Linked DNA regions of Homo sapiens. The protein of the gene in region 2 interacts with the protein of the main gene of each other region in a pairwise test. Each region holds a gene or a part of one and is shown on either strand. Other genes may lie near its edges. The genes, in order: KIF1B, SKIL, VIM and OIP5.

Region 1 (7,954 bases), on a different chromosome or scaffold from region 2:
AAAGAGAATTGTTTGAACTGGGGAGGCAGAGGTTGCAGTGAGCTGAGATGGTGCCATTGCACACCAGCATGGGTGACAAGAGTCAAACTCCATCTCAAAAAAATAATTATAGGTTGGGCACGGTGGCTCAAGCCTGTAATCCTAGCACTTTGGGAGGCTGAGGCGGGTGGATCACAAGGTCAGGAGCTTGAGACCAGCCTGGCCAACACAGTGAAACCCCTCTCTACTAAAAATAAAATCAGCCAGGCGTGATGGATGCCTGTAATCCCAGCTACTTGGGAGGCTGAGGCAGGGAGAATCGCTTGAACCCGGGAGGTGGAAAGTTGCAGTGAGCCGAGATCATGCCACTGTACTCCAGCCTGGACGACAGAGTGAGACTCCATCTCAAAATAAATAAATAAATAAATAAAATAATAATAATAATAATAATAATAATAATACAAAAATTAGCCACGCATGGTGGCGCACGCCTGTAATCCCAGCTACTCAGGAGTCTGAGGCAGGAGAATCGCTTGAACCCAGGAGGCAGAGGTTGCAGTGACCCGAGATCACATCACTGCACTCCAGCATGGGTGACAGAGCAAGACTCTGTCTCAAAAAGAAAAAAAAAAAAAAAAAGAAGCCAACACAACACTACAGAATTATTGGAAGGCATACAAGGAGGCTTCAGGAGAAAAACAACAAATCTTCTAGCTAAAATAACCACTTACATCTTTGGGAGAAAAGTACTTTCAAAGAAACAGCACCATATTAGCTTTCTTGGTTATATAAAAACCACGATTTTGAATATCAGAAAGGAATACTTAAGCGATGATATCGTGACTTCTGTCTTAGAAAGGTATTATCTTTGCAAATCAAGAAAAGAAATCTTTGTGCAATTACCTTTCAAGGGGTGCAAGAATAAATGCACATCGAGAACCTTCTGATGCACTGGCTGTACCTTTATTATTTTTACCTCGTTCACTAACAGCTCCGTGACGCAAGGTTACCACACACAGTTAGATAGTGTCTGCATTGCACATCTAAGGCTATACAGCAAAAGAATCAGAATTAGTACAAATACAAGAACTATATTTACAGTCTGTATACTCAAGCTCCAAACATCAGATAATATTTACAAAATAAAACATGAAAATGAAAATCCAAAATTAATGTACATTGTTGCTAATGTGCTCAACTCCTTCACGGGGGAGAGATCAGTTTGCAAAGTCTTGGTTCAAAAAGGCCACTTATGCATTATGGGTTTTGTTGTCATGTGTGAGGATGGTGACAAGAGACTTGAAATCTCAACAGACAGGTACTTTAGAGCCACAAAGTCTAAGACGATGCCTTAAATACAAGAAGGCTGAGGGACTCCTCAAGTGAGCTGATGCCAGAATAGGCAGAATGAAAAAAAATGAACTCGAAGACATGAAGAACAACACACAACAGCCACGGTTTGGCAAGAGACCAACCTCAGCTCAGACTTTCCATCTGAGCACAGCCGTTTGGCTATGAGCTTTTTACTGAATTTTATAGCAACTCTGATTTCTTCCTTTAAATGATTGGAGGCTTTTTAAAGATCTTATGGGGCTCAAATACTAACTTCATAAATGGCCTTTTGAATAACAGCAGCAAATAATCTCTCAGCTGATATTTCAATTTACTAAGGAAGCACAAATTAAAACATTCCTGCTACACAGTCATGGTCTGGCCACACACTGGGGTGAATCACTGGCCCTGGTGAACAACTGTAGTGCACACAAGTTAGAGTCCTATGTAAACACATCCAGCAAACCTTCTGGGAGCAGCAGCATCATGAATCTTTTCTTTTTTTTTGAGACGGAGTCCTGCTTTGTCACCCAGGCTGGAGTGCAATGGTGCAGTCTCAACTCACTGCAGCCTCCACCTCCCAGGTTCAAGCTATTCTCCTGCCTCAGCCTCCCAAGTAGCTGGGACTACAGGCACACGCCACCACGCCTGGCTACTTTTTGTATTTTTAGTAGAGACGGGGTTTCACCATGTTGGCCAGGCTGGTCTCAAACTTCTGACCTCAGGTGATCCACCTGCCTTGGCCTCCCAATGTGCTGGGATTACAGGCGTGAGCCACCACACCCGGTTGAATCTTTCAAGAGGCAGGTTAACAATCACATTTTTAAAAGGGAACCGAAAGGAAAACTGAAAGACCTAAGTCAAACAAGCCCTGATACTGTCCATTGGAACCCGAGCGGGACACAGCACGAGGGAAATGCAGAAAGAGTACCGATGAGTGTGCACACTGGAGAATCCTTTCTCTCCAATCCACTGTGCAAGTAAGTATAGCTGGATAAATATACATAGACCTGACAAAATTAAATATCCCTGTAAATTAGACAATAAGCAGCAGGCAACAAAGTCTTTGCTTTGGAATATGTGCCAGGAAAAGTCATCTTGTTTTTAGATCTCAAGAGACAGTTCACAATGACTTAGTTCCTTCATCTGAAATGAGCTGAAAAATCCATAAAAAATAGGAGAGTTGTCTGAAGTCTATGTGACTGAAGGGAAAAAATATATAATAGTGGTTTCTTAGTTGGGAAACTCACTCCATTGCCCCTTGCCGTCAGCACGTTTAACAACGAGCTGGGGCTCAGGTGCCCGGCCACTGCCACAAGCACCCCTTGCCTGTGCTCCTGACTAGCGCATGGGCTGGCTGGCCCTGCACAGTCCTGGCCTGAGCGCTGACTGACTCCCAGGAGGGCACACAGACACAGAGAGGGTCTGAGCACTGATTTGGGGCTGGTGGTGAGGCCATATTTTGCTTTGATGGGAGAAAGGAGGATGAGAGACAGAGGAGGAGGTGATTAGTATTAACTAGCACTTATTTCTCTGAATTTGCCTAAGAATTCTCTTTCCTGCCTTTTAAAGTTTTTGCTTATTTAAAGGCGTGCTTTAAGAAAATACATAAAGGTGGTTTCCTTAAGGGCTATGTTTCTTAACTTTCCCGCCACAACAGCAACAACTAGAGCCTCATAAACAGTTCCTGCCACAAATCTCTCACAGCCTCACAGTGGGGATGGTTCTGTCGGGCAAGGGAGCACCCACCCTGGACGTGCTGGGGACCAGCAAAGGCTGTCTGCACCTGCCAGCCGCAGCAGGGGCGCCCCAGAGGGTGAAGAGCACGCAGGACACGACCACTCTGCTCCCTCTGGCTCCCTAAGAGGCCTTCTTATTCAGGCACGCTATGAACAGACAGTCCAGTTTGGCCTGTTCTAATGTCTGACGCTTCCAAAGCAAAGACTTTCCAAACCAGTTTTGTATGAGTTAGAAGAAAAACAAAAGTCATTTCAGTGTATCACATAATTTCACTCTCTCTCAGGCTTCCCACCGTCCTGTGTCACAGACATGGATCCTCTGTCACACTCTGTAACAGCAGCATCAATGACTTAATTTTAAAAGTGACCTTCAAATTCCATCTTCATTTCCCTGAAATTAGATTTGATTCCAGTCCAGGCAGCCATCTCTAAGCACCGACAGATCCTGCTGGTTTGAATAGAACCGGAAGGGCATATTGTGTCCATCAGACAATGAAACTTCTAACTACATTAGAAAATCTCACATACCACTTAGAAAACAAATAACATCACAGTTAGTGACCTATGTTTTAACAGGAAGAAGAAAGTTAAAAAAAAAATCCGCCATAGAGTTTCCGCGGGTCACTTTTCAGGTGCAGACGCAGCCTGTGATTCTATCCTTTCCTTTCTCTCTCCGTGATTCACTTTTCCTCCTCTTCACAATGCAGTGATAAGGAGCGAAGCTGGGAGACCTGTTCTTCAGAGATGAGCCCAACCAGGAAGTGAGAAACAAGGTTGTGGATGATGACACAAGTCTCCCTAGCAACAACTCTGCAGAGGCGCGCAAGCCCCTGGCCTTTGCTGCGTGAAGCGGGAAGTCATCCAGCTGCCTAACGCCTGAGAGTCAGCAACCTCAAGGCCGAGGACTCACCAAGTGGGAGTGAGCAGATACTTTCCTGAATGCCTGAGCAATGGTGAAACAGAGAGGTCTGAGCAAGGGAAGTAAAGGATGGTGTAAAACAATCCCAAGACAACTGGCAAAGCAACTGAAGTCACTGGAGGCTTTCTTTTTCCCCTCTCATCCTGGAAAACTTACTGGCAGCTGAAAGAGACAGACTTATCTTCTCTGATGATCTCGGAAGCCAGATGACCTGGTCTGTCAGAAGGAAAGAAGACTGTCCACAGTGAGCTTCCTCCTTTCTCCCTGGGCAGTGTTTCCACACCAGATGGAGAGGAGCAGGGAACACGCAACAAAGCCTGGGGCCCGGGCTCCCTGGACGTTCATCCGTGCCCCTAGGCATATTGTGTTTTGTTTGGAGTAGTGGTCACGGTTAGTTTTAATCCTGGGATCCAGAAAGCAAAGCCTGCCACATTTGCTTATTTATGAGTATAGAGAGCATCACTGAAAGCATCTTCAACCTGACAAGCATCAATGAAAACAACTGCTGGATTCAGAGGGAGACTTCCAGGTTTATGCCTGAAAGCTATATTTCTTTGATCAAAGGGAGCTGTAACAATCACAAGGTCACTACCCAGCATTATTATTTTTTTTTTTTTCTGAGGCAGAGTCTTGCTCTGTCACCCAGGCTGGAGTGCAATAGCGCGATCTTGGCTCACTGCAACCTCTGCCTCCTGGGTTCAAGCAGTTCTCCTGCCTCAGGCTCCCAAGCAGCTGGAATTACAGGCATGTGCCACCATACCCGACTAATTTTGTATTTTTAGTAGAGACGGGGTTTCATCATATTGGCCAGGCTGGTCTTGAACTCCTGATCTCGTGATCTGCCCGCCTCGGCCTCCCCAAGTGCTTGGATTACAGGCGTGAGCCACTGTGCCCGGCCTGCCCGGCATTATCTTAATCATAACAATGACCATCAAGTTTATCACCAGAAAGTGAAACACTCCCGCCTTGTGGAACATTTGTGTATGACATGGCACTAATTCCAACTGTACCACCACCATCACTAATGCCAAAAGCAGAACTGAGACACTCCTAGAAAAGAGCTTCCCTCCCAACAGAGAAAAAACAGTGGGCAGGAATCCTGCTGTGAGGAGCTACAAGCATCCCACCGCCTGCTGCCATCACGGCCCACGGCCAAACCCTGGGGTCCCCTGAAGTCCACCAGAAGCATCCTTGGCATTTCCCTTCACACAAAGTCAAGAGCAGCCACTGTCCCAGGCCCACTGAAAAAGCCTCTCGTCTCCTCTCTACCAGTAAATAAAAATTCCATAATTATGCCGTAAAAAGCCCCAACTTTGACTCAGAATATAACTGTTGCAGTTCTATGCTCACTACCACCTTTTCCCTGAATGGAAATGCAGGGATTAGCCATGGCAAAAAGAGACAGAGGGGAAAAAAAGACTCTTTTTTTCCTCTCAGGTTCTAAAAAGGCCAGATGTCTCCTCCCTTAGTCTCTAAGCCACCCAAGAAAAATTAAAGTGATATCACAAACAGAGAAAAGAAAAAAAAAGTATGTTGTCTTGAAAAACAAAGGTGCCTGGTGACAGCAGCACAGACATCAGAGGTGGTCATGATGGGGACCTATCATACAAAAGGAAGCCAAAGTACACCCACAATAATTTGGAGATTCACCAGATCCCCTCAGAGTTTTTGTGTTTTTGTCTGTGTATGTGTGTGTGTGTGTGTGTGTGTGTGTGTGTGTTTAAAAACATTTTTTCCTTTTGTTAGGCCACATGCTACTAACGAGATTCTCAGCACAAGAAAAAAGAAAAGAGTACAGAGCAATGGAGATGGGGAACGGGAGAGCTAGAAAAGTGCTGGACAAGGAGGGAGAAGTAGTTAAGCCACAGGATTACATACAAGAGTCACCGTCAAGAATCACAAAGAGAAATGAGAGGTAACGCTTTCTTTATCTCTCGAAGGCGAGTGAGGGCACTCGGCAGAGTCACTTAGTATTTCGACTGGCTCGGGCATCTGCGGGAAAGCTTTGACCTATGGGGGACAAACGGGGAGGTAGGATTAGAAGTCTGGGTACAAGTCTTGTCCCCTCACAGTCCTCTCCCTCTGAGGCTCCCTCCTGGAGCATCTTCCTATTTGGCACCGCAGGCCTAGTCCTCTAAGCCGTCTACTCCGGGACCCTGTGACACAAGCCCTCAGAACGTGAGGCTGAATCACAGGGCTGGAGGTTGGGAGACCATTAAGGTTCTCACTGTCCTCCCTTTACTCTCTCCCCTGAGCCCCATCTTTAGAACTCTTGAGAACAAAAAGACAAAGAAGGAAAATAATTGGTGCACATGTGTGACCAGAGTATCCCTGGTGGTTCAGAACATGACAATGCCTTACAAGATGCAGAGGCCTCATTACCACCCCACAACCAATTTACACTCCTGTCCTTCCTCTCTTTTAAATTTATTTTGAAAAATACTTCCTTTCAAGCCAGATGTGGTGGCTCACGCTTGTAATCCCAGCACTTTGGGAGGCCGAGGAGGGTGGATCACCTGAGGTCAGGAGTTCAAGACCAGCCTGGCCAACATGGTGAAACCCCATCTCTACTAAAAATACAAAAAAAAAAATTAGCTGGGTGTGGTGGCGGGCACCTGTAATCCTAGCTACTCAGGAGACTGAGGCAGGAGAATGGCTTGAACCTGGGAGGTGGAGGTTGCGGTGAGCCGATATCATGCCACTGCACTCCAGCCTGGGCCACACAAGAGCAAAAACTCCATCTCAAAAAAAAAAAAAAAAAAAAAAAACAAGAAAAGAAAAAAGAAAAGAAAAATTCTTCCTTTCCTATTTATCCTGATATTCCTGAAGCCAAAAGCCAAAGAGAGAAAGAAAACACAGAACAACTTCTAGGCTGGGTGCAGTGGCTCAGGCCTGTAATCCCAGCACTTTGGGAGGCTGAGGTGGGTGGATTACTTGAGGTCAGGAGTTTGAGACCAGCCTGGCCATTGTGGTAAAACCCCGTCTCTACAAAAAATACGAAAATTAGCCAGGCAATGGTGGCACGTGCCTGTAGTCTCAGCTACTGGGGAGGCTGAGTCAGGAGAATCGCTTGAACCAGGGGGCGGAGGTTGCAGTGAGCCAAGACCAAGCCACTGCACTTCAGGGAGAAAAAGTGAGACTCCGTCTCAAAAACAACAACAACAACAACAAAACTTCTTACCGTATTGTGCCAGCTAGAAGTGGGTTGAAGGCATACAACCAGTCGTTCATGTCTTTGTCATTGAGGGCCTGCAAAAGGACCCCACGGTGCTTTGTGCAGACAGCAAAGGTGTTTGGTGTCTGAAAGAAAAATGCAGGTAGACAAGAAAGTTACTACAGAGACAGCAATGGGGACTGCCTTGCCATATTCCCAAGGCATATAGCACTTCACAAAGGAAGTTCAAAACCAGAGAGAATAGGGAAATTTCACACCACGTAACAGAGAGTGCAGAAATCAAAAGAGAAGGGCACACGTGGCAATAAGAAACCAAGGCAGGGCAGGACGGACCTTCACCATGGCCTGCTGGTCCTCACTGTACTCCACCTGTGCTGTGGACAGGTTAATGATTCCACGCTCCACAGGGTCTTTGTCACTGTTATAGATGAAGACATAAGGCCGACGGACGACAACAAAATGTTTAGCCCAGTTACTGTAAAGAGGCTCCTTGAAATGAAGGTATCCTTTCTTAGAGACCACTGAGCTAAAAACGACAATATGACAAAAGTTAGTTTCTCACAAAAAGAAAATAATCGTGCTGAGGACCATCAAAATACGCCACACTTAGGCCAAGTCCTTAGATTCGATGAAACAGGCAAATGACCTATTTGGCCTAGAATCTTATCTGCCAAAGTAATACGGCAAAAGCGAAACCGTGCCATGGCAACATGCTGCGCCAGGGTGCAGATGCATTATGAGACCCAACTGGAGAAACCCAGGCTGGCCCTCTCACCCCAGACTCAACTTGCATCAGACTACAGTACAGAT
Region 2 (7,954 bases):
AGAACTACTTTAAGTATGCTGTGCTTTCTTTTCAAGTGAGGTATCTATATTGAGGAAAAAAATCTTATAAATTCCTTTTACATTAAACTAATTTAATACACTATTTTGTTTTCTGGGCTGAATTTTTAAATTTTTTTCTTACATTTGATCACTTTCTAATTCAAAAATTGTAGCACTACATAGGACATTTAATTCTATTACTAAATAGGCTCCAAATTACATTATACAGTTTAGAAACCATTTCAATGAATGGATTTACAAAAAAAAAAAAAAAACTGTCCTTTTAAATGAAATGCAATATAAAATACTAATACACTTTTCTTCCAAAAGTGGAAATGCTTAAGTACCCTATACTAGAAAAAAAAAATTAGGCTGTTTATTCAATTCCACAATGTATAATACAGCAGTTTTATGTCCCTTATTGCTGACAGCTTCGATAAAAACTATTAACAAGTAGTTCCAAGCACAGAAACAGATGTACAGTATGAGCACGATTTTTCTTTATATTAATTTTTAATGTCCTATCATGTGGATTAAATGCATAAAGGGCAAATAAAAATGAGGAATCTTCCCTAAGTAATCAAAACATATGCCTTATTGAGAAGAAAATTTTAGAAGCTGATTAAAATCCTTCAGCACTAGCTTTGCAATTAATTCTGGAGAAATACCTTGACACATCTTATAGTATTTGAGTTTCCTTATAACTTTACCTTCCTTCAAACAGAAGCTACCTATGTGCAAATAAACTGGTTGTTCTGTCAGGACTTCTAAAAGATATGGATAACCGGCAAATATATACTTTATTTCACCTACTTTAATAGCTGCTTTACAATTCGCTATGTACAAATGATTTTATATCTTAACTGGTAATATATTAAATATGTTATAAAATTAGTTCAAGAAGCATAAAACACCCTAACTCTCATGAACACAGAAATTCAAGCAAAAGAATATGCTTAAACAAAAACTAAAGCACACAGCAAACGTAAATTGTTGGTCAAATCTTTTCATAGTGTTATAAGTTACATTTGTGAAATTTAGGGTAGTTGAAGAGCTTCCTCAATAACAGCAAGAGGTTTTACATTTATTACCTTTATAGAGTAGGTACACTTTTCTCATAAAGTTTAGCCTACAGAAACTATCGCCACCCAAATTAAACATCACCCAAGCTAATATTCTTTCTTCCTTCTAAAGATGAGCTAGCAAAACTTTTTATAGGTTGTCCCTTTAATGCAGCTTTTTAGAATAAACATTTTTACATTTTTTCTTAAAAGAATTATTTTTTGAAGTCTGAGGAAAAATCCGCTTGCCTAGTGAATTTGGCACACAAAGAGTAACAACAAATCAAACTTTAAGCTAGCAACCAACACACAAAATAAGCATGCAAAGAATAGAATAAGTTTTATATGGATAAGGTATTTTAGCCAACTCCACTTATAAGGTATTACAAAATCTCTATATTGTTTTGAAGCTATGTGTTGCAGTTTAAAGTTACTTTTAACAATAATACGTATATTTACAATTGACTTAAAAAACTATTTTCAAGGAAGTTAGAAACCTATGGCACACCAACGCATCTTCTGGAAAATGAAGACGATACAATGTCATGTGGCAAGTTTTCAATATATGAAGGACTAGAAAAAATATTTCTTTACTCAATTCTGAATTACAAGTTCATAATAATTTAATGGTGTTTAAGCACTGCTTAAAATTTTCCAATAACATATTTCAAGGATTAAGCAATTTATTTTAGAAGTTTTGGGTTAAACAAATTATCATTTTCTAGGTAACATAAAGCAGAAAGGTTCCAAGTGAATTAGAAATATAAATGAAATTATAGGTGTTTGAGTTTGTCTTCCAAAAAGCTGAGCTGTGACACAAATAATTCAAAATTAAAATAAAACTATATCATAAATATCTGATTTTTCCTTCTCCAGATCTAAATAGATTGTATTGGGAGAATATGTCATTTTAAATATTTGTTTCTAAAAATTAGCCGGGAGTGGTGGTGGGTGCCTGTAGTCCCAGCTACTCGGGAGGCTGAGGCAGGAGAATGGCTTGAACCCAGGAGGCAGAGCTTGCAGTGAGCCGAGATTGCACCACTGAACTCCAGCCTGGGAGACAGCGAGACTCTGTCTCAAAAAAAAAAAAAAAAAAAAAAAAAAAAAAATTTGTTTCTACATGTCATTTTAATATTTGTTCCTCCTTGAGAAGATTCCAAGACTCAACGAATTAAATTAGTCTTAATATAGCAAAATTTAAATGGAAAATAGAAAACACACATTTAGGTTATACTCAATTTAGTAAATAAATTACATTTGGGGAAGTACAAAATTCTTTTTGGATATGTACTATTAAGCAAAATATGAAAATAACTGGTTAAATGACAACCTAGTGATTCTTTCTACACCATTAGATTATCTACCTTCTATGCTGGAAATAGAATATAACCTTAACCCTAGCTAATTTATTTTAAAATAAATATAGCTCTCTGAAGTAATTTCATACATAGTATCTTATAAGAGAACATGAAAAACATTTATTATCCCATAAAATCCATGGGGTAATAATGTCAATTAATGATAGTTTCAGGAAACTCCCTTTAAAAACAGATCTAAGAATTTTACCTAATATATTTTGAGCCAAGAATTAACAAATATGAAATTTGCCATTAGAGAATGACAGACTTTTCTGTGCAAAAAAAAAGTGCAGAAGATGTTGTCCCTCCTGAAACTATGGAATTCCTTTATCTTCTAAAACTTATCTAAAAATCTTTTAGTAGCAGGTAACTAAACTGTCCTATATGCACCTATCATGTACTATCAGTTGACTGTAAATTCCTGATTTTGATATTAAGTAGTAAATGAAAATGGTCCATTCGTGCAAATTTTGGTAAGACAACATTTAAACATACAGAAGTCCAAAATAACCTTCAAGGTGTTTAACATTTTACAACTTAAAGGAAAACAAGTCCATTATATAAATTTTAGTAAGACTCATAACTACATGTAAAAACTGTACAGGAGGATTATGGATTGTATAGAAACTGATACACAACAGTGGTATCAGTTTTTCTCAAGAACGTTAATATTTTCACACCACTATTAACAACACAAACAAAAGTTCAGAAATTATCACATTTTATTTTTGAAAAGTTGCTGCTTAAAAAAAAATCTAACTATAACCACATTTAAACTGAAAAACAAATTACAACTGCTGCTTCTGTTTAGCAGCAGCACATAACAACACATTCTTCTTCCCCACTGTGCTCATGGGGTATGCTATAACCTCAGTAAAATTCCTCCTAGGGTACACATTAAAAAGAAGAGAACTGGTGGAAATTCATTCCACAATCTGAACAAAGTAAAAGTAAATTTGGTGTATGTTAATGAGTACACCATATCAACTTAGAAAAATTGTGTTAATGAGAAAAGGGGAGATTCAACTCCTTGAGTAGCTCTATATACTTAAAATATAAAGCCACCATTGTATCTAAAATTGAGTCTGAAATATGGATAACAAAATTGACCACAGCTATTTTCCAACACATATTGCAGCTTTTAAAAAGTACACAATTGTTAAGTTTGCATTAGAAATATAAGCAGATTACCTACTAGTTGAAACCATATAGTATTGTTACTAAGCTGATTTTTTTAAAAAAGTACAAAGAAACATACATTTTCATTCATTTGGAAAATGTAAAAATTTAAGTACTAATATATAATCTCTTCACTTTCTCTGATCTACAAATGGATAGAATGCCTAGTTATCGTCATGCAGATAAATTCTTCAGAATTCAATTACCAAAGCAAGCAACAAACAAAAAAAACCTTGTCAGTAATACACAGATGAATCTCTTTAACAGTTTCTATTCTTTAGCAGTCTTTGATGATTTCAGAATTTGCAGCTTTAGCTCTTTTATCATCATCTCTAACTTCTGTCTTGCTTCCCGTTCCTGTCTGAGTTCATCTTGGAGTTCTTGCCTATCGGCCTCAGCATGGTCCAATCTCTGCCTCAGTTCTGCCAACTATGTGATTTAAAAGGCGCTATCAATTTTAATTGTTTTGTTTTTCCATTTAATCCTCATATCATAGAAAATATCTATTTTCAAATTACTTTTTACAAAACGAACTATTTCATGTATACTAAATCCATTAAGCATCTAATACTATTAATCTGACATCTGACAGGACACTAAATTTAAGAAAAAGCAAAGGAACAAGAGGAAGGAACACATCCAGCATGTTCATGTTCATTATGCCCTATACTTTACTATACCGCTCATCACAGCCTGCTCATGTTAGTTATTTGTTCATGTTCCTTAAATTGTGAGATTCTATTAACAAAAGAGAATTGCTTATTTTTGCTCCAGTGCTTTTGAACATAACAGGCAACAGTTCCTGTTTGTTAATTTGTAGATTTGAAAGCTCATATACTACATTAAAATAATATAACATATAATATTCAGAGGGCTAGAGATTAGCAATTTAGGTAACTAAACTGCAGTAACCCGATAAAAATTTAAACTAATAAAAGCAACAAACATCAAAATAATCATCTTGGACAATACAGCATAAAGCTATGTTTAACAGAATTATCTATTTTGAAATCTAGCTTAGTAAACTGAGCTTGACAAAAAGTAATTCCTTTATTAGAGAAGTAACGGTGGCCGGGTGCAGTGGCTCATGCTTGTAATCCCAGCATTTTGGGAGGCTGAGGTGGGCAGATCATGAGGTCAGGAGTTCAAGACCAGACTGACCAACATGGTGAAACCCCGTCTCTACTAAAAAATACAAAATTTAGCTGGGCATAGTGTCGCACGCCTGTAATCCCAGCTACAATCAGGAGGCTGAGGCAGGAAAATTGCTTGAACCCGGGAGGCAGAGGTTGTGGGGAGCTGAGATTGTGCCACTGCACTCCAGCCTGGGCGACAGAGCAGTCTCTGTCTCAAAAAAAAAAAAGAGAGAAGTAACAGTTTCCATTTCCATGCTGAAAGGGCACCATTATACAAACAGTAATTCTTACCTGTCCTGCATATTCAGCCTCTTTGTCTTTTTCTAAATTTGAGTCACAGGTACATTTTTGCTTCATTATCTGCTCCAATTTTTTCTCTAAGTCTTTCTGTTCAACATAAAATTCTTCCATTCTTTGAGCATGTTCATTCTGCAAAGATTCAAGCTCTTTCTGTAAATTCTGCTGTTCTTCAGTGAGTTCCTTCATAGATTTTGAACTACTCAACATTTTTACTTCCTGTAATGTAAAGAATCACAATACAAGTTTTACTTTATTTTCACCATGTTAAAATTTTCAGTTCTGGAAAACATAGCACAGAAAATACCTAAAATTCAGCTATCATTATCAGTTCTATATAGAGGTAATTATTTTAAAAAACTATTTTCTCAAAAAATTTTAAAATATATTAAAATTGCTTTTCAGTGTAAAACAATAATCTTAAGTACATTTGTAGCATCTCGTTTTGACTTTTCTTACTAAGAATATACAGGGGGGCTGGGCGCAGTGGCTCACACCTGTAATCCCAGCACTTTGGGAGGCCAAGGCTGGTGGATCACAAGGTCAAAAGTTCGAGCCTGGCCAGCATGGAGAAACCCCATCTCTACTAAGAATACAAAATTTAGCCAGGCATGGTGGCACGTGCCTGTAATGCTAGCTACTCGGAAGGCTAAGGCAGAAGAATTGCTTGAACCTGTGAGGTGGAGGTTTCAGTGAGCTGAGACTGCGCCACTGCACTCCAGCCTGGGCGACAGAGCAATATACAAAAGTATCTTTTCATAATGGACTATCATTTAGATAACAATTTTACCATCTGAAGTTGTTGCTTCTTTTGCAAAATCAAGTTTAGTTTTTCCTGTTGTTTTAAATAAGTTCTCATTACTTCTTCCATGATTTTTCCCTTATCATCCTCACAAATGACATCTTTCACAAGAAGCGGAGATGAAGCGGCAGCAACAAGGCCAATTCCCACTTTGTTTATGTCTCTGACTAAGTTGCAAGTGGCAGACTCAGATTTCCTTTTACTTGTAGAATTATTTGAGATTGATGCATCTTGGAGAGAAAAAAATCAAGTAACAAAGTATGAATATCACTCCATTAAAAAAATCACTAGAACAATCCATAAATGTAATTTTTAAAACATTTCATTTATAAATTAGACCAAAACAAATAAAATAGGAATAAATTTAACAAAAGCAGTGCAAGTACAATGAAAACTACAAAACATCACTAAAAGAAATTTAAGACCTAAATACATGGAAAGACATCCCAAATTCATGGATTGGAAGACTTAATATTGTTAAGACAGTAATAGTCTCCAAATTGATCTACTTATCAGTGCAATCCCTATCAAAATCCCCACTGGATTTTTTGCAGAAATTGAAAAGCAGTTTCTAAAATCCATATGGAAATGCAACAAACCCAAAATAGGCAAAATAATCTTGAAAAAGAATAACGAAGTTGAAAGACTCACAATTCCCAATTTCAAAGCTTACTACAAAGCTACAGAAATCAAGACTGTGTGACATGATTTAAAGATAGACATACAGATCAGTAGAACAGAATTCAGAGTCCAGAAATTTAAAAAACTCATACTTTATAAGGCAATTGTTGTTGACAAAGGTGCCAAAGCAATTCAGTCAGGAAAGAATAATCTTTTCTGGCCAGGCGCGGTGGCTCACGCCTGTAATCCCAGCACTTTGGGAGGCCGAGAAGGGCGGATCACGACGTCAGGAGATTGAGACCATCCTGGCTAACATGGTGAAACCCTGTCTCTACTAAAAAATACAAAAAATTTGCCAGGCTTGGTGGCGGGCGCCTGTAGTCCCAGCTACTCGGGAGGCTGAGGCAGAAGAATGGCGTGAACCTGGGAGGCGGAGCTTGCAGTGAGCCGAGATAGCGCCACTGCACTCCAGCCTGGGCAACAGAGCAAGACTCCGTCTCAAAAAAAAAAAAAAAGGAAAGAATAATCTTTTCAACATACGGACAACTATATCCACATGCAAAAGAATAAGGTTGGACCTTATGCTGTATACAAAAATTAACTCTAAACTGATCAAAGACCTAAATGTAAGAGCTACAACCCTTAAACATAAATTTCTTGGCTGGATGTGGTGGCTCACGCCTATAATCCCAGCACTTTGGGAGGCCGAGGCAGGTGGATTACCTGAGGTCAGGAGTTCACCACCAGCCTGACCAACATGGTAAAACTCTGTCTCTACTAAAAATACAAAAAAAATTAGCCAGGCATGGTGGCGCGCACCTGTAATCCCAGCTACTCAGGAGGCTGAGACAGAAAAATTGGTTGAACCCGGGAGGTGGAGGTTGCAGTGAGCTGAGATGGCACCACTGTACTCCAGCCTGGGCAACAGAGTGAGACTCTGTCTCAAAAATAAATAAATAAATAAATAAATACATAAATAAATATTTCTTGGAATTGGGATTAGGCAATAGTTTCTTAGATATGATACCTAAAACAAGAAAAAAATAGATAAATTGGATGTAATAAACATTTAAAACTTTTGTGCTTCAAAGAACACTAACACGGCCAAGCGCGGTGGCTCACACCAGTAATCCCAACACTTTGGGAGGCTGAGGCAGGTGGATTGCTTAAGCTCACGAGTTTGAGACCAGCCTCAACATGGCAAAACCCCAACTCCACCAAAAATACAAAAATTAGCCGAGCATGGTGGTACATCCCTGTAGTCCCAGCTACTTGGGAGGCTGAGGTGAAAGGATGGATTAAGCCCAGGAGGTAGAGGTTGCAGTGAGCCAAGCTGGGGTGATACAGCCAGACTTTGTCTCAGGAAAAAAAAAAGAACACTAACAAGAAAGTAAAAAGAAAACAGTATGGTAAATCAAATATCTGATAAGGATCCAGTATCCAGAATATATAAAGAACTCTTACAACTCAATAGTAAAACAACCTAGCATTAAAATAGCC
Region 3 (8,106 bases), on a different chromosome or scaffold from region 2:
TTATACTACACTATTCATCTGAGAGTGCTTTGCAGTTAATCCCAGTAAATATTCCAGGGAATACAACTATAAACTATAATGGGGATCTTCTGGCTTTTGGATTCCAATTTTAAGTTAAAAATTCTGTAAGTCCATCTAATTTTGGTGAAAAAAAAAAAAAACACGCACAAAAACCCTTTAGTTAAAATTCAGTTTTTCAGCCTTGGGTTTATTACTGTTATTATTTTTTATGGCAAGAGTGCTAAAGAACACAAGAACCCAATCAAGAAAGGACTTTTAAAATGTGAGGTATGCTTGTAGCTTTAAAAACTTTTTACATTACCTACTTCTCAAGTCTGGGCCAGATATTAGATAACGGATGTTAGCAAATACTTGTGTCCAATTAGAACCGTGCTTACATCATTACATATTCAGTAAGAATGTAGCCTGTTGCAAAGCTTCCCTGGGAATACAAAGACTCCTATTATTTCTGTCCAGAGCCACCACATTTGCCAGAATGTCTGTATCTACATTCCATAGTGAAGCCCATAGAAACCATTAATACCCCTTAGCCAAGGGGACAGATGGCTCCTTTTCACCCTTATTAGATCACAAAATAGTTGTGCATAGTGATACTTCCATCGAACTTTAATGACACAATAGAATTTGCAAAGAAGAAAAGAAACTTGCTGGCTCCATTCCAGTTGGAAACTAAGTTTTCTTATCTTCCAACACGTTTTCCATTTTAAACTGCAGGGCATAATTGCGCTTTTTGTGGCCTTGTAAAAATTAAGCAACTTGACTTTGGCAAACCACAATCTAAAATTGTAACCGTTCGAAACCAGAAGGTCAATGTGTTGCAAAACTGTGCAACATTTGGGAAACAAAGTAAAAAGTTAAAAGATTTTTCTTTATGTCCCAAGGAACTGCTTAGAAATCATTCAAGGATCGCTTGAACCCGGGAGGCGGAGGATGCAGTGAGCCAAGATCTCGCCACTGCACTCCAGCCTGGGCGACAGAGTAAGACTCCGTCTCAAAAAAAAAAAAAAAATCGCTCAAGGGGTTTTATTAATATTTTTCTAATCATGAGAAGCTCCAACCTGTGGTCTTCCCGCCACTAGAGGGCTTTACGCGCAGCCCTGAAGTTTTGCACTTTTTAGACGTGAGTTAAGCAACTTTTAGAATTGCTCGTGGGTTGTGTTGGGTGGGGTCAGGCGGCTGCGAGTGGGAAGAGAGTCTACAAACCTGTCTGAAAGATTGCAGGGTGTTTTCGGCTTCCTCTCTCTGAAGCATCTCCTCCTGCAATCTGAAACAGTTGCGCATTAACCAAAGGGGAACGAGGAAACCGCCAGGGGCGGGGCGGCCACACCCAAACACCACGTATTCGCTCTGCGCCTCCAGAGCAGCTGCGCCACCTCCGCGCAACTAGCGCCTGCAGCTTTCAGACCTGCTGCCCTCGGCAGGTTTCAGCGGGACTTCGGGCACCGCGCAGAGGGGCAATCACGGTGGCCGCACAGACCTACAGGACAGCCCCGCCATCCCCGCCCCCGAGGGACCATCCCTTTGTCTCGCTCCCTCCACCGCCTTCCCCTCCTTCCTTCTCCCGCCCGGTGATTGGCAGCCTGCCAGAAGGGGCAGGAAACTTTCTGAAAGTTTGGAGGACTGGCTCTCATTGTGCCCAAGGGCCTTCAACTGCACACAAAGTGGTAGTTTTAAGAAATCTGTAACTTGAAACGGAGCGTCCTTGGGCAATGTGTGGGGACAGAGGAGGAAATGCGAACTGCAAGGTCTGGGTTCTGGGCGGGGCTGCGCCACCACAGCCACAGCCCCGCTCTCCGCTGTCTCCCTGGCAGGCCTCCCCCCGGCCACATCCCCAAGGGCGTGGCAGCTCTCGCGGGGGCCGGGGGGGCGTTCCCCTCTCCCTCCAGCCCCCTCCCGAGGCCCAGCTACTTGCATGGGCGCAGCCTTACTTCTCCCGGAGGCGCATGATGTCCTCGGCCAGGTTGTCGCGCTCCACCTCGACGCGGGCTTTGTCGTTGGTTAGCTGGTCCACCTGCCGGCGCAGCTCCCGCATCTCCTCCTCGTAGAGGTCCCCCAGGCGCGACTTGCCTTGGCCCTTGAGCTGCTCGAGCTCGGCCAGCAGGATCTTATTCTGCTGCTCCAGGAAGCGCACCTTGTCGATGTAGTTGGCGAAGCGGTCATTCAGCTCCTGCAGCTCCACCTTCTCGTTGGTGCGGGTGTTCTTGAACTCGGTGTTGATGGCGTCGGCCAGCGAGAAGTCCACCGAGTCCTGCAGGAGCCGCACCCCGGGCACGCTGCTCCGCAGGCGCACGGCAGAGGAGCGCGTGGCATACACGCCGCCCGGGGACGAGGCGTAGAGGCTGCGGCTGGTGCTGGGGCGCAGCGCGCTGCCCAGGCTGTAGGTGCGGGTGGACGTAGTCACGTAGCTCCGGCTGGAGCTCGGCCGGCTCGCGGTGCCCGGGCCGCCGAACATCCTGCGGTAGGAGGACGAGGACACGGACCTGGTGGACATGGCTGCGGAGGGTGGCGATGGCCTGGGCGGCGGCGGTGGCGCGGACTGGCTCCCGGAGAAGAGGCGAACGAGGGCGCGGTGGGTGTGGGTGGTGGGAGCGCGGCTGCGTCTCTGGCGCGGGGACCTCGGAGCGAGAGTGGCAGAGGACTGGACCCCGCCGAGGGCGCTGTTTTTATAACCCCGTTAGGAAAGAGGGTCCCCTCCCACTGCCATCCCAGCCGCGGAGCGCGCCAGCCAATAGGGACCTAGCGAGAAGCGGGGAGGGTGGGCGGGTGGGGTGGGGGCGCCCTCGAGCCTTCCTGCTCCGGGGCCTGGGACTGGGCATGGTCCCGTTACTTCAGCGCTGGGCTGGGACTTTTGGGGGCTTTCCGGATGATAGTCTGAGCTGGGCTCACCCTGGGGTGCTGAAAAAGGCGGGGTCGCGCGGTGAGGGGGGGGTCCGCCTGGGACTGAACCAGAGGGGTCCGGTGGCACCACGCCAAAGGGGCGTGGGAGGAGGTGCGCGGCGGTCTCGGGGCTGCGGTCAGGCGGGGAGACCCGCGGGCAAAGGAGCGGGAAGAGGAAAGAGTAAGGAATCCCTCAGATCTGAAGTCGCGGAGAAAGAAACAAAGAGCGCCTGAGATTGGAACGCGGGGTGGGGGCGCGCACAGCGCAGGAACGCAGGGCTCAGGCCTCGCCGCAGCCTCGCGCGCCGCCCGCTTGGAAAGGGGGGCTGCTCCGGCCCGCGCCTCTGTCCATCGACTTGCCTTGGCGGAGAGATGTTGGGGGGAGGGGAGGTTCTGTCGAGGGACCTAACGGGCTCAGTCCAGCTTCGGACGGCGGGAGTTGCGAGACGGCGGTGGCAGAGGAAAGCCCGAGGGAGAGGGGTGGGGTCGCTTAGTCACCGGCGGTGACTCACCGCGCCCTGCTGTCCCGCCGATTGAGGGCTCCTAGCGGTTTAGGGGAAACCGTTAGACCAGATTGATTCAAGTCTCAGCGGGCTCCGCGCGCGCTGCTAGTTCTCAGTGCTACCAACTTACAGCTGGGCCATCGCCTTGCTGTGTGCGGTCGGGCCCTGTGGGGGACAAGAGCGCCCCTAAGTTTTTAATAACTCGCTAAAGCCTGTCTTTGCTCGAATGTGCGGACTTTTTGTTAGCAAGAAACTTCTGCAGCCTTTGGAGAGGCGCCATACGTGGGCCTCCCAGATCACGATTGCACCGGGAAGGTTTTTCTTGCAGAGTCCCCGCCCCCGTCCCTCTGGTCTCCTCTCGCTCTTCCCCCTCCCCCCATGAAACCACACCCAACTTTTTAAACAAGATCTGAAAATTCTGGGTGAAAGAGGAAACTCGACGTCCGTAGTTTCAAAATAGAACTCAGTGATCAGTGGTTTTTACCCTGGTGGAAGTCATTAAAGGTATAATATGAGCCAGTTAAAGAATTAATTAGGTGTTGCTTAAAAACCCCAATTTGATTAATGAGTTCAAATGAAAGGCAATTATGTAACACAAATGACAGAATCTTTGGCGGCAATAGATTTATGTGTTAATTTTAGGACAGCAATGCACAGTACAGGGTTCACGGTGATTTGTCTGGGAAATGCCATAGGTCCTGTTTTCCAAAAGAATTCGTGCAATTGACCTTGGGGTGAGGGGGATAAAACTGTCTACGCAGCAAAAAACTTCGTGTCCAAGACATGGAGGGAGTGTTCAGATTCGGTCACCTTAACCTTTCTAGGGAAATCACTCAATTCAAGGGCTGTTGTTTCAATATTAGTAACGAGCAGAGCTGAGTACTTACCCGCCAAGGGAGATAAAAGGAGACTATGTAAATCAGTCTTCTCGTGATTTAGTAGCAATTGAAAAGGCACAGGTTTTTTTGAGTATTTAGATTTATGGTGTACTGAAAGGATTAACTGCAGAACCACTGTAAAATTGATTCTGCAGTGGATAGGAGAAAAAAAAGTATTTCTCTCTTTTTTTTTGGTGGCGGCAGGGGGTACTGCAGGTTACTTGGTATTTAAGAAACATAATTTAGAGGTAAATGAAGAGCGTATTCTGACTTCTTTGGACAAGCCTCTTTTAGGCAATATTTTGTTTACCTTATCCCAGTTCGTTCTTGCAAATGGTGCTTGCCAAGGTGGAATTACAGGACTCTCTACTGCCCAGCTCGCCTGCTGGGGCTTTCTTTTATTCTCTCTTTCACTGGGAGGCTGCAGGTCATTCCCCAAGAGCATTCCTGGGGCTGGGTGCCCTGGAGGACAAGCCTATGCTCTGAGTTACATCTTGCTTTCTGAGAGCCCTTTATTCAAGCCACTGCTCAGCAAATGCCACCATTGTGAGTGTGCCTGGAACCCTTAGAATGAGAAAAGTGATCTCCCTATGGGAGGAAGAGAGTGTGGAACTCACTTCTACGTGCAGTGCCGATCCCAGGGCAATGCGACGCTTGCTGACTGACTCACTATGGAAAAGGAGGACAAGGCATTGGCGAGGTGTGGCACTGTGCCCTGCTGGTGCCCATAGCCGATTCCTCAGGGCTGCGGTGATGTCTCCTGGAATGGGCACTGGTCCTCTTCATCATCTCAGGGATAGGTAGCTCCTCCTTCCAACCTGTCCCCATTCTGAAGTCTCTGGGCTGTGATAGGCTGCTCTCTTGTCACAGACATATGTTTGTTTGATGCATATAGAATGTATAAAAGTGTAGGTGTTCTGTAGTCCCAGCACTTTGGGAGGCCAAAGCAGGAGGATTGCTTGAGATCAGGAGTTTGAGACCAGCTTAGGCAACATATATATATGAAACCAAAAAAAGCCAGGCGTGATGGTGCACACCTGTGGTCCCAGCTACTTGGGAGACTAAGGCAGGGGGATTGCTTGAGCCTGGGAAATTGAGGCTGCAGTAGGCTGTGCACACCACTGCACTCCACCCTGTGCAACAGAGTGAGAACCTGTCTCAAAATAAAGTATATGTATGTACTACACACACATATACATACGCACATATACAGCGTTCAATGTGTTTTTCCTATTAGAAAATGCCATTGTTTTTGGTGGGCTGCAAGAGAAGTGAAAGTTGCAGAAACACTTTCATTCATTCATGTAGAATTCATGAGACTTAAGAATTCATTTCATTCTGAGATAAGATATACAGTGCCTCAATCAATGGGTGATAGTTTTCAGTCAGGGAGATCAATGAATCTGAACTCACATCCTTGAGTGAGACAACTCAGCCTGCTCTCTATGCTACTGTGTTCTTAGGTATCTTTTGGGTACACAGACATAGCTTTCCCGGGTTTTGTGTTTATTTTTTAATTGCTATGAAAACCTATCTGAGAAGTATTTTCAAGTGCTGGACTGGGAAGCTGCTTTCAACACAGCATGATGCAAGTTGCATATAAATAAAGACGTGGTGGTATAATTCATAGGCCAGGCATAAACACTACCACATCTAAATTACCAACAGTGATTTTGGAATTTGCAAGCTGTCATGATGTCAGTTGAATTGGGTGACTTAAACTGACGGACCAGCCAGCCGTGTGGACAGAAGCTTAGTGGCCTATGGAGGCTTTGGGAAAGCTGGCTAGCCATGCCAAGAGAACAGCATCTAGCAGGACTGTTTGGATGGAATGTTAGAAAGAAGAAGGAGGGTACACTGAGAGCATGAAAACCATAGCAAAACCTAAAATCCATGGAAATACAGGTAATAATAATAAATAGTATAATAGGTAATGTCGATGCCAACTGAATGACAGACACTGTGTATATATTTAATTTAACTTGATGCACTCACACCCTCCTGCAAGATAGACTTGATCATCCATTTCACTAATGAGGAGCCTAAGATGCAGGCTAGCAATTTTCTTGTGGTTGTATGACTAGCAGGGGTGGGAAGAAGGGGACAAGAATTTGAATCGAGGCCTTTCTGACTCTAAATGCACTTCTCTTTTCTGTTTGCCTTGATAACAAAATTTTGCTTACTATCAACCAGTTCAATTCACAAATATTAAGTGCTGGACTTATCATTTAGGGACCTACTGTGTTCCAGGAACTGAAGAGATGGGATGATTAACACAGATCTTGCTGCGAAGGGGCATATTTTTAGAGGAATTTGGCAGACAGCTATAACACCATGTTTACGATGTAAAATGATGTAAAAAACAAAATCAAATGACGTAACAGTGATCATACTATGTAAGAAGGGAGATTTGTTTTCACCTGCATTCTAAAACATTACTTTCATTAGTGAGTTAAAAATTTTCATTTAGATTCCATTTTGCCTCTTAGGAGGAATCACATTCAAGACTGGGTTTAGCTCGTCTCACGCCCTAAAGCCCATGAACCACCATCGCTTCCCCTGCCAGCTTCCCTGTCTATTCAGGGCAATACAGCAAAACAACAAGATTGGAAACTTTCATCATTGCCACTTCCTAACTAACTCTTCCATCTCAGATCCAATGGGTATCATGCCCCGCTCTTCCTGGATCCACTCCTCTGTTACGTTGCTGTCACTCAGATCCAAGCCATTTCATACCTCCTTCCTGCAATACTGCAATTGGCTTCCGTTCCTCCATGCTTTCTTGCTTTCTTTCTTTTCTTTTTTTTTTTTTTTTTGAGACGGGGTCTCGCTCTGTCCCCCGGGGCTGCAGTGCAGTGGCGCGATCTCGGCTCACTGCAAGCTCCGCTTCCCAGGTTCACGCCATTCTCCTGCCTCAGCCTTCCCAGTAGCTGGGACCAAAGGCGCCCGCCACCAAGCCCGGCTAAGTTTTTGTATTTTTTTAGTAGAGACGGGGTTTCACCGTGTTAGCCAGGATGGTCTCAATCTCCTGACCTCGTGATCCACCCGCCTTGGCCTCCCGAAGTGCTGGGATTACAGGTGTGAGCCGCTGCGCCCGGCCCCTCCATGCTTTCTTTTCTGCCACCAATGCATCTATCTTCAAGCCATCACCCCTTTTTCTTTAAAACTTATATATATATATATAGAGAGAGAGAGAGAGAGAGAGAGAGACAAAGGCTTGCTCTGTTGCCTAGGCTGGAGTGCGGTGGCGCAGTCATAGCTCACTGCAGCCTCTTAACTCTTGAGCTCAAGTATTCCTACTGCCTCAGCCTCCCTAGAAGCTGGGAGTGCCATCCATGCCCAGCTAACTTTTTATTTTTTGTAGAGCCAGGGTCTTGCTATGTTGCCCAAGCTGGTCTTGAACTCCTGGGCTCAAGCAATCCTCCAGCACTGGCCTCCCAAAATGTTGGGATTAAATGTGTGAGCCTCCACATTTGGCCAAAAACTTCCTTCTTTAAACTTCTTGGCAGGAATTGCTCATTTCCTCACTGGAATGTAATCTCCCTAAGGGCAGGTAGGAATTTTTCTCTCTTTTGTTGACTATTGTATTTCCAGTGGCTAGAGAAAAGCCAGGCACATCTGTCGAATATATACATTAATACATGAGTAGTTCATAGAAGGAAGAAATATAGGTGTGGGGCTAATATTTACTGGTGCTTATTATGTTTAAGCATTGTGCTAGTCACTTTAGACATGACTGCATTTAATCTTCACAAGGTATCGTGATACACAACTTTTATTCTTTTACTCCAAACATACTTATTGAGTATTTGCCATGTGCCGGGCAG
Region 4 (7,773 bases), on a different chromosome or scaffold from region 2:
GCTTCAACACTCGGGAGATGGCAGTTGCAGAGATCAGGCCACTGCACGCCAGCCTGGGCGACAGAGCAAGACTCCATCTCGGGAAGAAAAAAAAAAAATTTATATATATATATTCTGCTAGCTACATCCCAGCCAAGTTAGCTTTTCTATCCTCCACCACTTGGATATGTAATTTCTTGATTGTGCTAGTGCCAAAGGCTCTCCTTAGTGGTCTGCTTGCTGTCCTTCCCACCTGTTTTCCACAGGACAACCACAGTGACATTCTGAAAAAGTAAATTTGATTAGGCAGGCCTTCTTTTAAGGACCTCATAAAGGTCATCCCTCCATCACCTTATTAATTCCTATTCGTCTTTCAGACCACCGCTGAAACTTCACTTCTACACAGAGGCTTTCTTTCCCAGAAACCCAGACCAGGTCAGTTACCTGCTTTATGTGCGTGTATCCCTATGTTCCTTTACTTCAAAACCCTTACTAGCGTCATAATTTTACATATCTTTTTTTTTTTTTAGATGGAGTTTCACTCTGTCGCCCAGGCTGGAGTGCAGTGGCACGATCTCGGCTGACTGCAGCCTCTACCTGCTGGGTTCAAGCAATTCTTCTGCCTCAGGTTCCTGAGTAGCTGGGATTACAGGTGCGCACCACCATGCCTGGCTAATTTTTGTATTTTTAGTAGAGACGAGGTTTCACCACGTTGGCGAGGCTGGTCTTGAACTCCTGACCTCAAGTGATCCACTGCCTCGGCCTCCGAAAATCTGGAATTATAGATGTGAGCCACTGCGCCAGGCCTGTAATTTTATGTATCTTTATGTGATTATTTGAATGTCCCTCTCTGACTAGATTATAAATTCTAAGGATAGTGTGTCTATTTTTGCTTACCTTTTATCCCCAGCACCTAGTCTAACACTTTACAAATATATATTAAATTAATATTTTGATAAGTTACTCAAAGTGCTACATAAAACAAAATTATAGAAAATAGTACTTTGGTAACTGTTTCGTTTTATCATTGCTTTCATTATTTCTCTGTTAACCTCAGTTTACAACTGAAAAAGACAAATTGTATATTATTCAGGCAATTTATTAAACATTACCTATAGAATATTATGATCTGTATTTTACAGAAGTTAAAAAGTGATGTATTAGTATTCATAACAACTGCTCCATGCAGGAGTAATAGAAGTCAACATTAAGCCCAACTCTATTTTCAGACCAACCATGCAACTTTAGATCAGAGGACACATGGGACTCTGCATCTTAATTCCTAAATTTACAGTCAAAGACATTTTCAGAGATAAGTATTATGAATTCAATAAGAATCTAAAGTAAGTTCTTAAGGCAAATAGCTATAAAAGAGAAGAATCCTTAGTCTCTCATCTTCTAAAAACAGCTTCACAAATAATTTGGAAAATCAGCCTAAAGGTAAATAGAAACTGCATTTCCCCTCCATTCTTGAAGCCAATCTTTTTCAAGAAATGACTAAGCAGCACCTGTTGTTGAAGACAGCAATAAAGCCTGAACCTGACACTCAAGCTTTGGTACAGGATCAGTTTTCTGGCTTGGACTGGTCAGGAGTCACTTCACTCAGAATCTTCATTAGTGATTTTAAGCGATTGTGCGTTAGCACTATCTTCTCTTTCAGCTAGGAAGAGAAATATATAGATATCAGGGCATCTTTTTTTATTTTTACTTATTTTAAGAGACAGGGTCTCACTCTGTTGCCTGAGCTGGAGTACAGTGGCACATTCATAGTTCACTGCAGCCTCAAGCTCCTGCTCTCAAGTGATCCTCCCACTTCAGCCTCCTGATTAGCTAGGACTACAGTCATGTGTTTTAAATTTTCTTTGTAGAGATGGGGGTCTTGCTTTGTTGCCCAGGCTGGTGTTGAACTCCTGGCAGTCAGTGATCCTCCCAAAGTGCTGGAATTACAGACATGAGCCACCACACCAAGATGGATATCTGGGCATTTTAAGCTTAACTGTCAATTTGCTGGTCACAAACACCATTTCAAATTTAAGCTAGTTTATATCTAGTAATTGGGAGCTGGCAATGTCTAAATGCATTTGAGGAATAAATTTCTTCTAATTCTGGAAGAACTTTATACAACAACGTAGCGCACAGTAAGATCTTCAGATGTGGCCAGGCGCAGTGGCTCACGCCTCTAACCCCAGCACTTTGGGAGGCTAAGTTGGGCAGATCACGAGGTCAGGAGATCAAGACCATCCTGGCTAACACGGTGAAACCCCATCTCTACTAAAAATACAAAAACAAAATTAGCTGGGCACGGTGGCGGGCGCCTGTAGTCCCAGCTACTCAGGAGGCTGAGGCAAGAGAATGAGTGAACCCAGGAGGCAGAGCTTGCAGTGAGCCAAGATCGTGCCACTGCATTCCAGCCTGGGTGACAGAGCGAGACTCCGTCTCAAAAAAAAAAAAAAAAAAGATCCTCAGATGTAAAGTTTCGTGTGAAAAAAGACAAAACATTGCTGAGCAGCACTGCTACTGTGAAGATGAATAAAGTCTGGTCACAGTGCTTTGTGGAGACAGGCTTCTCCTCCTTTTCCAGTGGCAAGAATTTAGCTTTTCTTTTAACACTTTGTTAACAGTAACAAATGCCTCTCTGACTTTAACATTCTACTAATGGTCTGCAAAGTTAACTCTGGTTATTAGGTTTAGAACAGATAACTGTTGCAATTAGGTAATTTTTAAGAGTTCTTACAGCTATATTTAGCATGAAATTTAGTGTTGTTACTCAGCAGGGCAAGAGCAGTGGCTTCTGATAATCTCCATTCGCCCCTCCCAGCATAGGATTTCCACCCTACAAGCAAGCTGGGGGCAAGGGCAACTGGGTTCCCAGCTACTGGGGAGGCTGAAGCAGAAGCACTTGAACCTGGCACTCACACCTGTAATCCCAGCAGTTTGGTAGGCCGAGGCGGGTGGGTCACCTGAGCTCGGAAGTTCGAGAACAGCCTGGCCATCATTTTTAGCAGAGATGGTAAAACCCCGTCTCTACTAAAAATACAAAAATTATCTGGGCACGGTAGTGCGCGCCTGTAGTCCCAGGTACTCAGGAGGCTTTTTAGTATTTTTAGTAGAGACAAGGATTCTCCATGTGGGAGAATCGCTTGAACCCGGGAGGAGGGGGTTGCAGTGACCCAAGACTGTGCCACTGCATTCCAGCCTGGGAGGCAGAGTGAGACTTTGTCTCAAAAATAAATAAACAAATAAATGTTTCTGTATTTGCCATATACCTTGAAGAAAATTTCCACAGACTTAAGATGGTTGTTTCCTTTATAATATTCTTCCTGGATCCTATCCATGGAACTCCTCATACTGCCATTCCAAAGTCATTTCCCATACCAATTATTATTATTATTATTTTTGAAATAGATTCTCACTGTCACCCAGGCTAGAATGCAATGGCGTGATCTTGGCTCACTGCAACCTCTGCCATCCAGGTCCAAGCGATTCTCCTGCTTCAGCCTCCTGAGTAGCTGGGGCTGGGATTATAGGCGCCTGCCACTGCGCCTGGCTAATTTTTCTAGTTTTAGTAGAGACGGGGTTTCACCATCTTGGCCAGGCTGAACTCCTGACCTCATGATCCACCCACCTCGGCTTCTCAAAGTGCTGGGATTACAGGTGTGAGCCACCGCACCCAGCCAATAAGAATTCTTTTTTTTTTTTTCCACACAGAGTTTCGCTCTCAATGGCAAGCTCTCGGCTCACTGCAACCTCTGCCTCCCAGGTTCAAGCGATTCTCCTGCCTCAGCCTCCCGAAAAGCTGGGATTATAGGCATGCGCCAACACGCCCGGCTAATTTTGTATTTTTAGTAGAGATGGGATTTCTCCATGTTGGTCAGGCTGGTCTCAAACTCCCGACCTGAGGTGATCTGCCTGCCTCAGCCTCCCAAAGTGCTGGGATTACAGGCATAAGCCACCATGCCCAGCCTTCTTTTTTTCTTTTTTTTTTTTTTGAGACAGATTTTCACTCTTGTTGCTCAGGCTAGAGTGCAATGGCATGATCTTGCCTCACAACAACCTCTATCTCGCAGGTTCAAGTGCTTCTCCTGTCTCAACCTCCCAAGTAGCTGGGATTACAGGCATGTGCCACCACGCCCGGCTAATTTTGTATTTTTAGTAGAGACAGGGTTTCTCCATGTTGGTCAGGCTGGTCTCGAACTACTGATCTCGGGTTATCCATCCGCCTCAGCCTCCCAAAGTGCTGGGATTACAGGCGTGAGCCACCACGCCCAGGCAAGAATTATTTTTTTTTGAGACGCAGTCTCGCTCTGTTGCCCAGGCTGGAGTGCAGTGGCGCAGTCTCGGCTCACTGCAACCTCCACCACCTGGGTTCAAGCGATTCTCCTGCCTCAGTCTCCTAAGTAGCTGGGATTACAGGCGCCCACCACCATGACCGGCTAAATTTTTTTTTTTTTTTTTTTTGAGACAGAGTCTTGCTCTGTTGCCCAGGCTGGAATGCAGTGGCGCAATCTCAGCTCACTGCAACCTCCACCTCCCAGTTCAAGCAATTCTCCTGCCTCTGCCTCCCGAGTAGCTGGGACTACAGGCACGTGCCACCACGCCCGGCTAATTTTTTGTATTTGTAATAGAGATGGGGTTTCACTGTGTTAGCCAGGATGGTCTCCATCTCCTGACCTCATGTTCTGCTCGCCTTGGCCTACCAAAGTGCTGGGATTACAGGCGTGAGCCACCACGCCCGGCCAGGAATTCTTAATAACTGTTTCATCACTCTTATGTCTGAGACAGTTGAGCAATTACAAGGTATTTGCAAAGAAGACACCTCTATGGCAAGATGATGATATCCATTCCCAGCACAAAGGAGAATGCAGGAGTGCAGCAGTTGAGCAGCTTTTCCTTTCTTCCTGAACTATACCTTACAGTGTGGTTTTAGTATTTTGTTTTTCATTACAAATTCAATAGGGAAGGTCAAATCAAGTAAAAAGGATTATTGAGCATCATGCCATTTCATCATCCCCAAGTTCATTGGTAGAAGTTATCAAGAGTTGTCTGTATTTTAAAAAAGCATACAACCATCATGAAATTTTACCTCTGCAATCTTTTCTGATAGAGGAACATTTTGAATATCCATCTCTGATGCATTTACTATGGCTTTTGTTTTTAAGAGATAGCTAGATAGGAAAAAAGAAAAATATTAGTGTCATACCATGGTTAAGATTATAAAAGAACCAAACTTACCTTCTAAAGAAAGTATGTGTCAAAAAAAGCCTGGCTTCTTAATGATTTTCATTTCAAGACTCATGATGTTACAGTTGGCCCACCATATCCATGGGTATAGCATCCATGGATTCAAACAACCACAGACTAAAAATATTCAGGAAAAAAAAACTGGATTGTGTCTGTACTGAACAGGTACACTCTTTTTCTTGTCATCATTCCCTTAACATTACAACAACTTTGTAAATTTCCTATGTAAATTTGTAATGTACATAGCATTTACATTACGTTAGCTGTCATAAGTAATCTGGAGATTATTTTAAAGTATAAAATATATACTTTTATACTTTAAAAAGGAGGATATCCAAAAGTAATATGCAAATATTACACCACTTAATATCAGAAACTTGAGTGTCCATGGATTTTGGTATCTGGTGAGGTCCTGGAACCACAGATACTGAAGGATGACTGCATTTTCTTGGAAAAACAAATTCAAAAATAAACAAATTGGAGAGGATCTCTGCCGCATCCCACCAGAGACAAAATTATCTCAGGGTAAATTAAAGACAAAAACCAGGCTCATATGAATAATTACGATGATTATAAGCTTTACACTTCATCAGTAGGATCCTGTAGCACAGTTTGAAAGAAAGTAATCCCAGTATGAGACATAGTGTTGGTCACCTATTCCCAGTAGCTGTTCCTCACTTTTTTTTTTTGAGATGGAGTCTCGCTCTGTTGCCCAGACTAGAGTGCAGTGGTACAATCTCAGCTCACTGCAACCTCTGCCTCCTGGGTTCAAGCGATTCTCCTGCCGCAGCCTCCCGAGTAGCTGGGATTACAGGCTTGCGCCACCACGCCCAGCTAATTTTTGTATTTTTAGTAGAGATGGGGTTTCACCATGTTGGCGAGGCTGGTCTCGAACTCCTGACCTCAGGTGATCCCCCTGCCTGGGCCTCCCAAAGTGCTGGGATTATAGGCGTGAGCCGAGCCCAGCCTTCCTCACTTCTTTATTGCCAACAGAATCCAGATTTTTGCCATGAGCCTACTGTTACATATTTGCTTTCTCAGATGAGGTGATCATGTGACATAGTTCTGGCCAACAAGGGTAAGAAAATGGGATGGGTGTGCTGGCTCACACCTATAATCCCAGCACTTTGGGAGGCTGAGGCAGGCAGATGGCTTGACATCAGAAATTTGAGACCAGCCTGGGCAACATAGCGAAACTCCATCTCTTTTTTTTTTTTTTGAGACAGAGTCTTACTCTGTCACCCAGGCTGAAGTGCAATGGCGAGATCTCGGCTCACTGCAACCTCCGCCTTCCAGGTTCAAGCAATTCTTCTGCCTCAGCCTCCCAAGCAGTTGGGATTACAGGTGCCCACCATCATGCCCAGCTAATTTTTGTATTTTTAGCAGAGACAGGGTTTCACCATATTGGACAGGCTGGTCTTGAATTCCTGACCTCAAGTGATCCGCCTGCCTCAGCCTCCCAAAGTGCTGGGATTACAGCTGTGAGCCAACATGCCTGGCCAGCGAAACCCCATCTCTACAAAAAATACAAAAATTAGCCAGATGTGGTGGCATGCCTGTAGTCCCAGCTACTTGGGAGGCTGAGTTGGGAGGATCACCTGAACCCAAAAGGTTGAGGCTGCAGTGAACCATGATCGCTCCAGCCTGTGTGACAGTGAGACCCTGTCTCAAAAAAAAAAAAAAAAAGAATAAAAAAAAGATTAAGAAAATTTATGCTGGCGGGGCGCAGTGGCTTATGCGTGTAATCCCAGCACTTTGGGAGGCCGAGGCGGGGGGATCACCTGAGGTCAGGAGTTTGAGACCAGCCTGGCAAACATGGTAAAACCCCATTTCTAATAAAAATACAAAAATTAGCAGGCTGTGGTGGAGCGCACCTGTGGTCCCATCTGCTTGGGAGGCAAGGCAGGAGAATCACTTGAACCTGGGAGGCGGAGGTTGCAATGAGCTGAGATCACACCACTGTGTTCCAACTTGGGTGACAGAGCAAGACTCTGTCTCAAAAAAAAAAAAAAAATTTATGCTGATGAAAAGGGGGAATTTTCTTGTGTTCCCATACTCTCCATATCCTTTTCCTTCATGTTTAGGATGCTATCATCAATAGATGTAATGACTGTAATTGCAGCAGCCATCCCGAATCCAAGAGGAAAAGGCCAAAGTTTCTACTTAATCAAAAAGAATGTCCTGACCTTTTATCCAACTCATTTTAAAGATTAAGAAATTAACCAAAATCCCATAATGCTTTTCAAATTTATGTTAAAAATATGTTACTAAAAGCTTACTGCCCTAACAAAAATGCAATTATTGCTTCTCTAGAACATTTACTTTTGTACTGATTTCTAAAAAAGATGTGGGATTACTAACAGCACACATTTACAGTTTTTTTTCCCACTTTAAAGTTAATTCTAAATAGAAATTGCTTAAGAATCTAGAAATTGGTGGCGCAGTGGCTCACACCTGTAATCCCAGCACTTTAGGTGGCCAAGGCAGGAGATCAAGACCATGCTGGCTAACACGGTAAAACCCCGTCTCTACTAAAAATACAAAAAAATTAGC

Evidence for each region.
Region 1: the proteins of SKIL (region 2) and KIF1B interact in binary tests that used the Homo sapiens proteins (3 or more experiments, as listed by UniProt).
Region 3: the proteins of SKIL (region 2) and VIM interact in binary tests that used the Homo sapiens proteins (3 or more experiments, as listed by UniProt).
Region 4: the proteins of SKIL (region 2) and OIP5 interact in binary tests that used the Homo sapiens proteins (3 or more experiments, as listed by UniProt).

The regions. Positions count from the first base shown.
Region 1 is NC_000001.11:10,374,570-10,382,523, reverse strand, and holds the end of KIF1B (kinesin-like protein KIF1B), read right to left. Parts: intron 7,671-7,954; coding exon 7,478-7,670; intron 7,270-7,477; coding exon 7,151-7,269; intron 5,980-7,150; coding exon 5,937-5,979; 3' UTR 921-5,936; downstream 1-920. UniProt on the Homo sapiens protein: Has a plus-end-directed microtubule motor activity and functions as a motor for transport of vesicles and organelles along microtubules.
Region 2 is NC_000003.12:170,388,332-170,396,285, reverse strand, and holds part of SKIL (ski-like protein), read right to left. Parts: intron 6,064-7,954; coding exon 5,822-6,063; intron 5,251-5,821; coding exon 5,026-5,250; intron 4,028-5,025; coding exon 3,869-4,027; 3' UTR 1-3,868. UniProt on the Homo sapiens protein: May have regulatory role in cell division or differentiation in response to extracellular signals.
Region 3 is NC_000010.11:17,223,829-17,231,934, reverse strand, and holds the start of VIM (vimentin), read right to left. Parts: upstream 3,695-8,106; 5' UTR 3,411-3,694; intron 2,660-3,410; 5' UTR 2,513-2,659; coding exon 1,950-2,512; intron 1,286-1,949; coding exon 1,225-1,285; intron 1-1,224. UniProt on the Homo sapiens protein: Vimentins are class-III intermediate filaments found in various non-epithelial cells, especially mesenchymal cells. Vimentin is attached to the nucleus, endoplasmic reticulum, and mitochondria, either laterally or terminally.
Region 4 is NC_000015.10:41,308,211-41,315,983, forward strand, and holds the end of OIP5 (protein Mis18-beta), read right to left. Parts: intron 5,145-7,773; coding exon 5,063-5,144; exon of another isoform or gene 3,688-5,062; intron 1,640-3,687; coding exon 1,544-1,639; 3' UTR 1,063-1,543; downstream 1-1,062. UniProt on the Homo sapiens protein: Required for recruitment of CENPA to centromeres and normal chromosome segregation during mitosis.